Homo sapiens: one gene and its partner. The protein of the gene in region 1 purifies or fractionates together with the protein of each later gene. This does not show direct contact. Each region holds a gene or a part of one and is shown on either strand. Other genes may lie near its edges.

What was found. The genes of interacting proteins can lie anywhere in the genome.
Region 2: the proteins of PNOC (region 1) and WDTC1 purify together in Homo sapiens (co-immunoprecipitation; 2 studies listed by BioGRID and IntAct, with this or other methods). This does not show direct contact.

Annotation. Positions count from the first base shown.
Region 1 is NC_000008.11:28,337,720-28,341,371, reverse strand, and holds part of PNOC (prepronociceptin isoform 1 preproprotein), read right to left. Parts: intron 2,726-3,652; exon of another isoform or gene 2,584-2,725; intron 2,333-2,583; coding exon 1,928-2,332; 3' UTR 1,881-1,927; intron 1-1,880.
Region 2 is NC_000001.11:27,286,618-27,290,269, reverse strand, and holds part of WDTC1 (WD and tetratricopeptide repeats protein 1), read right to left. Parts: intron 2,597-3,652; coding exon 2,409-2,596; intron 1-2,408. UniProt on the Homo sapiens protein: May function as a substrate receptor for CUL4-DDB1 E3 ubiquitin-protein ligase complex.

The sequences.
Region 1 (3,652 bases):
AAGGATCCAAGAGTGAGTATGACTTCAAAAGCAGTGCAGGTTAATTTGGGGCCTTTGGAGATGAGTCATCCTGCTAAAATAAACACATCAGCTTTCTCTTCACAACTTAATACACGTGTCCATATTTGGTAACAGGCCCGTGGTGAACATGTTGGCCTACCTGCAAAGGGGCCGTCTCCATGCTAAAGTGTGGGCACCAAACATTAGCATATGTACTAATAGATCATCAAGGAAGGTTATTAGTGACACGGCTACCTCTGACACATGGGACGCAACTTAAAATAGCACATGCAGACATTTTTCTCTTATGCTCGGACTCAGGGAAAAGCCCCACTTGGGTAATGTTTTGGGGTGATTTTGATGATCTGACTGGTTCTTTGTGTTAGGACAATGATACAGTTTAGAAGTTTGTCCTCTTCCAATTTCATGTTGAGATGTGATCCCTAATGTTGGAGGTGGGCCTAGTGGGTGGTGTTTGGGTCATGGGGGTGGATCCTTCAGGAATGCCTTTGTGCCCACCCTATGGTAATGAGTTCGTGGGAGATCTGGTTGTTAAAGAGGCTGGGACCTCCCCTTTTCCCCCTCTTGCCCCCTCTTGCCATGTGGCACGCCAGCTCCCCTTGCCTTCTGCCATGAGTAAAAGCTCCCCGAGGGCCTCACCAGAAGCAGATGCGGGTGCCATGCTTCTTGTATAGACTGCAGAACGTGAGCCAAATAAACTTTGTTTATGAAGTACCCAGCCTCAGGTATTCCTTCGTAGCAATGCAAAATGGATGAATATGGCAAGTTTCTTAGCTATTTAAGGAGACGTATGGGACTCTGCAGATGATCATATTCCCATATACAAATTAAGGCACATAGCCTTGATGGTTGGGAGTTTCCTAAATTTTCAGAAAATTCTACTGTGCTAGGTTGCCAATGCCACTCAAAGTGATGTATTGGTTGATATCCTAAGGAAAGTTGGGTTTTGAATGAACAGGCAATCAGTTAGGGTATTTGATGTATATTATGAGACATGTGGACTTGTATAAGGTGCCTGTGGGTATAGGAACAGAGCAGAAGAAAGAGAGAACAAGGAAGAAAGAGAGGAATAAAAGCAAGCAAACAAAACCAAAACAAAAATGGCACGCTGGAAAGAAGCCAAATGGAGGAAAGAAGATGAACCCCTTTAGTCCATATTCTAGTAGCTACTAGGTCCATTGGACCAAATTCTCCACGTCTTGCTCAGTAATGATACCGTTGACCACAAGGAATCAGTCCCTCTCTGGCAAGGTGGCAGGATGGACAAATGGCTTGTGGAAGGAGGAAGAGCAGAAACCACAACTCCTAATCTTAACAGGAACTCTTTGTCCAGGTAAAATGGGAAACTTTAATGTTTCCATGGAGCCAGGCACCCTGAGAGCTGGGGAAAGGAGAGGGGATAGGTAAGCCGTCTTTGAAGATGAAATAGCACCATCATAGCTGTGGTAATTGGACTCTGCTAATGGCTAAGAGTAGGTCCCACTCTTGGTGTTTAGAGAGACAATCTCGAGGAAAGGTGAGCTGACTGGTTGCTGTGGCAACTGGATGGGCGTATTGGTCCACTTAACTGTCCCCATAGTAACTAAGCTCCTGGGGAGTGATAGAGGAATTAGTTATCTTAACATACTACTATTATCCCCATGGTAACCAGTCTCTAGCCGGAAGTGGTCAGCTTCAAGGTGCAATCATAGGAAAATCTGCTGCCTAGAGAAAGGGTGGGCTGGACTCCTTGCGGGGTGTGTGTGTGTGGAGTGGGGAGGGGGCGGGGAGATGAATGTGCTTCTAGGCCTGGGAGCAAGGCTAAGACAGTTGGTGTGTGAGGTCTCTCCTTGCCCCCAGCTTATTGGTGCCCAACTCACTCATGGGTTGCAGTGGCCGGTACAGCTGGGAGGAGCGCCCCTTCCGGCTACACATTACCATTCTGGTGCAGGGTGCGCCGGCGCTGGCTGGACTGCATGCTCAGGACCAAGTATTGCCTCATAAACTCACTGAACCGCTTCTGATTGGCCAACTTCCTGGCCGACTTCCGGGCCCCGGTGAAGCCCCCAAATCTCTTCTGCAGCTGCTTCTGCTCCATCTCACCAGCCTCCTCCATGCCAGGCTCGGGCTCTTCCTGCTCCTGGAACAAGCTCCGGACTCGGGGCATTCGCCGCAGATGCTGCATCTCCGAAGCTCTCGGCTGGTAGAGAGCAGCCGCCACATGCTCTGGGGCGGCAGGGCTGAGCTGCCAAGAGCTCCTGGCCATGACCTTGGTGCATGGAGTCCAGAGGGGGCTGGGGAAGACCTTCTCTTCACACTCGAGGATGCACACCTGCAAAGATACGGGTGAGAGGAGGGGAGAAGGAACAAGGACCTCTGTTAATCCAGGGCGAGGGAGGAGATCTGGCCCACTGCACCAGTGCAAGTGCTTCTGAAGCATCTAAGTTATCAAGTAACGTGGAGCAGTTTTACACAGGTTTTAGGTTCGTAGAATTTCAGAATTGGAAACAAACAGAGAATCATCTGACCCAGCTCCATCATTTTACAAAGAAACCAGGGCTCAGAGAGGTGAGCGTAACTTACCTCTGGTGTCACAGCACGTTAACATAGGAAGTTAACACAGGATAAATGCGCCCAACACCGCACCTTGTTACATCTTTAGTCGGGTTTTTGGAGCCAAGCACAGCTCATGACTGTCACCCATAAAGAATTTTATTTTGTTCTCTCTTCAGGCTTGTGGGAGGTCACATGGGTTAAAGAAATTGGGGATGTGAAAGTATGTAGTCAAATCTGCAGGTTTATTTTAAGGTCACCATGTAAAGATCTACCTAGGTGTTGTTAATTTTTCATCCCGCGTACAGCAGTCGTCACTATCTGTGTATCATTTATAGCAAATGGGGTCAAGACCCTGTGGGGTGGTAGGCCGGCTGGACGTGCGGGGCTGAACCTGTGATCCAGTTCCAGGTGTGGGGAGAGATGCCATCATCAGACCAGAGCCCAGCAGACCCGCTCGGCTCCTAGGAACACTCTGCTCTGCCTCTCCTGCCAACCCTGACTTCTAGCCACCAGCTGGACCACGATGTTTCTCCAGCCCCTCTTGGCTGGTTCTGACCTTGGCCCCCCACCTCCCACGTTCTTGGTTCTGATTGGGTCTCCTGGAAGCCTCTGCCCCCAGCTTTTCTTCCTATTTGCTGTTTTGGCTTCACCCCTAATTTCAGTCCAGGTTTCTGGCCTTAGCCGGCTGGAAACCCCACTTCAACCTGACCTTACTGCTGTGAGTCAGTAGGCAGAGCTCCTCATCATAGCGTGGAGCTCCTGCCTGGCTTCCAGGTCACCTTCTGGGGCAGAGGCTGCAACTGGCCCGTATTCATCTCCCCTTCTCCTTATGCACAGAACACTGTTTTATTCCTAAAGGCAACGTATATGTTTCCCAAGCTTCCTTGGAGCCATAAGTAGCTGACGACATAAAAATGGAAGTGTAGGCCGGGTGCGGTGGCGCACGCCTGTAATCCCAGCACTTTGGGAGGCCGAGGCGGGTGGATCACGAGGTCAGGAGATCGAGACCATCCTGGCTAACATGGTGAAACCCCATCTCTACTAAAAATACAAAAAAAAAAAAAAATTAGCTGGGCGTGGTGGCGGGCGCCTGTAG
Region 2 (3,652 bases), on another chromosome or scaffold:
TCTACAAAAAAAATAGAAAAATTAGCCAAGCATGGTGGAGCGTGTCTGTAGTCCCAGGTATTCAGGAGGCTGAGGTGGGAGAATCGCCTGAGCCCAGGAAGTCAAGGCTGCAGTGAGCCATGATCACGCCACTGCACTCCAACCTCGGCAATAGAATGGAGTGAGACCCTGTCTCAGAAAATAAATTAATTAGCTCCCTCTCCCTCTCCCCCTCCCCCTCCCCACGGTCTCCCTCTCCCTCTCCCCACGGTCTCCCTCTCCCTCTCTTTCCACGGTCTCCCTCTCCCTCTCTTTCCACGGTCTCTCTCTGATGCCGAGCCGAAGCTGGACTGTACTGCTGCCATCTCGGCTCACTGCAATCTCCCTGCCTGATTCTCCTGCCTCAGCCTGCCGAGTGCCTGCGATTGCAGGCGCGTGCCGCCACGCCTGACTGGTTTTCGTATTTTTTTGGTGGAGACGGGGTTTCGCTGTGTTGGCCGGGCCGGTCTCCAGCTCCTAACCGCGAGTGATCCGCCAGCCTCGGCCTCCCGAGGTGCCGGGATTGCAGACGGAGTCTCGTTCACTCAGTGCTCAATGGTGCCCAGGCTGGAGTGCAGTGGCGTGATCTCGGCTTGCTACAACCTCCACCTCCCAGCCGCCTGCCTTGGCCTCCCAAAGTGCCGAGATTGCAGCCTCTGCCTGGCCGCCATCCCGTCTGGGAAGTGAGGAGCGTCTCTGCCTGGCCGCCCATCGTCTGGGATGTGAGGAGCCCCTCTGCCTGGCTGCCCAGTCTGGAAAGTGAGGAGCGTCTCTGCCCGGCCGCCATCCCATCTAGGAAGTGAGGAGCGTCTCTGCCCGGCCGCCCATCGTCTGAGATGTGAGGAGCGCCTCTGCCCGGCCGCGACCCCGTCTGGGAGGTGAAGAGCGTCTCTGCCCAGCCGCCCCGTCTGAGAAGTGAGGAGACCCTCTGCCTGGCAACCACCCCGTCTGAGAACTGAGGAGCCCCTCTGCCCGGCAGCCGCCCCGTCTGAGAAGTGAGGAGCCTCTCCGCCCGGCAACCACCCCGTCTGGGAAGTGAGGAGCCCCTCTGCCCGGCCAGCCGCCCCGTCCGGGAGGTGAGGGGCGCCTCTGCCCGGCCGCCCCTACTGGGAAGTGAGGAGCCCCTCTGCCCAGCCAGCCGCCCCGTCCAGGAGGGAGGTGGGGGGGTCAGCCCCCTGCCCGGCCAGCCGCCCCGTCCGGGAGGGAGGTGGGGGGGTCAGCCCCCCGCCCAGCCAGCCGCCCCGTCCGGGAGGGAGGTGGGGGGGGGGTCAGCCCCCCGCCCGGCCAGCCGCCCCGTCCGGGAGGTGAGGGGTGCCTCTGCCCGGCCACCCCTACTGGGAAGTGAGGAGCCCCTCTGCCTGGCCACCACCCCGTCTGGGAGGTGTACCCAACAGCTCATTGAGAACGGGCCAGGATGACAATGGCGGTTTTGTGGAATAGAAAGGGGGGAAAGGTGGGGAAAAGATTGAGAAATCGGATGGTTGCCGTGTCTGTGTAGAAAGAAGTAGACATGGGAGACTTTTCATTTTGTTCTGTACTAAGAAAAATTCTTCTGCCTTGGGATCCTGTTGATCTGTGACCTTACCCCCAACCCTGTGCTCTCTGAAACATGTGCTGTGTCCACTCAGGGTTAAATGGATTAAGGGCGGTGCAAGATGTGCTTTGTTAAACAGATGCTTGAAGGCAGCATGCTCATTAAGAGTCATCACCACTCCCTAATCTCAAGTACCCAGGGACACAAACACTGCAGAGGGCCGCAGGGTCCTCTGCCTAGGAAAACCAGAGACCTTTGTTCACTTGTTAATCTGCTGACCTTCCCTCCACTATTGTCATATGACCCTGCCAAATCCCCCTCTGCGAGAAACACCCAAGAATGATCAATAAAAAAAAAAATAAATAAATAAAAATTAATTAATTAATAAAAATAACTACAGGTGGCAATTAGAGTTACAGAGGATATAATTGTTAAAACAAGCATAACGTCTGTCTACTTTAGACAGGATGGTCAGAGAAGGTGCTTCTGAAGAGGTAACTGAAGCTGATCTCCTTAGGATAAGAAAGAGTCCGACATGGGAAGAGCTGGGGACAGAGAATCTCAAGTAGAGGAAAGAGTAACGTGAATGCCCAGAGGCAGTAGAGACCCTGGACACCTGAGGTGGTGAGAAAAAGCTTGTGGGCCTAGAGGTAGTACAAAGGAGGGCAAAGAGGGAGGAAGGTGAGGGCGGAGTAAGCAAATGTTCCCAGTGGAGTTTGTACACAGACAACTGCCCTGGGCAGACAAAGGAGGTTGGACCTCTGCTGGAGGGAAAGAGCTAGGTCTGTAGAAGGAAACACTATAGGATGATGGGATGGGGGAGCGACAGGCTCCACTAGATGCCCCAGACTCTTACCGGATAAGCCCATCCTCAGCAGCACTCCAGAATGTGTTGGGCCACATGGGCGCTGTGGCGATGCGCTTCACCCGGTTTGTGTGGTCTCCAAACATGTGGATGGTCTCCTTTACTGTCAGGTCGTGCACATGCACCTTAGAGTCGGCTGCCCCCGTGATCAAGATGCGGTCCCCAGCGTGAGGCAGGAACTATATAGGAGAAATGGAGGAAGGGGTGGGTGGTAAGAGTAGAAATGGCCACGGAAGGAGGCTAGCCTGGATGTCTGCACCCTTTTCTCTCTCCATGTCAGATAAGAGAATGAGCCCATGCAGGCTGGGCGCGGTGGCTCATGCCTGTAATCCCAGCTGCTCAGCAGGCTGAGGCAGGAAAATCCCTTGAACCCAGGAGGCAGAGGCTGCAGGAAGCCAGAGGCTGCAGTGAGCCGAGATTGTGCCACTGCACTCCAGCCTGGGCAACAGAGCGAGACTGTCTCAAAAACAACAACAACAACAAAAAACAAAACAAACCCTTGAGGTTCAGCAGTAATATACAGCAAGATTGTGTTCAAGCCCAAGTCTGTCTGACTCCCACATGCCCTACTTGCCTCATTATGACTACTTAGTAACCTAGAGATTAAGTAATAAATTAGTCCTGAAGTGAAAAAGACTTTGAGTGTTTAAGGGAATGGGTGTGTGTGGGTTTTTTTTGTTTTTTTTTTTTGAGACAGCGTCTCGCTCTGTCACCCAGGCTGGAGTGCAGTGGTGCAATCTCGGCTCACTGCAACTTCCACCTCCCGGGTTCAAGCGATTCTCCTGTGTCAGCCTCCTGAGTAGCTGGGATTACAGGTGTGCACCACCACGCCCAGCTAATTTTTGTATTTTTAGTAGAGACAGGGTTTCACCATGTTGGCCAGGCTGGTCTCGAACTCCTGACCTCAGGTGATCCACCTGCCTTGGCCTCCCAAAGTGCTGGGATTGTAGGCATGAGCCAGAATGCCCTGTTGGGAGTGAGTGTTTTAAATTAGTTTGACTGCTTCTGAAAAACAATCTGGTAATAGTAACAAAGATTAAAAACAATTTCTAGTTTTTGACTCAAAACTTCCACTTCCAAGAAATAATCCAGGCCAGGCGTGGTGGCTCATGCCTATAATCCCAGCACTTTGGGAGGCTGAGGCGGGCAGATCACAAGGTCAGGAGATCCAGACCATCCTGGCTAACACGGTGAAACCCCGTCTCTACTAAAAATATAAAAAAATTAGCCGGGCG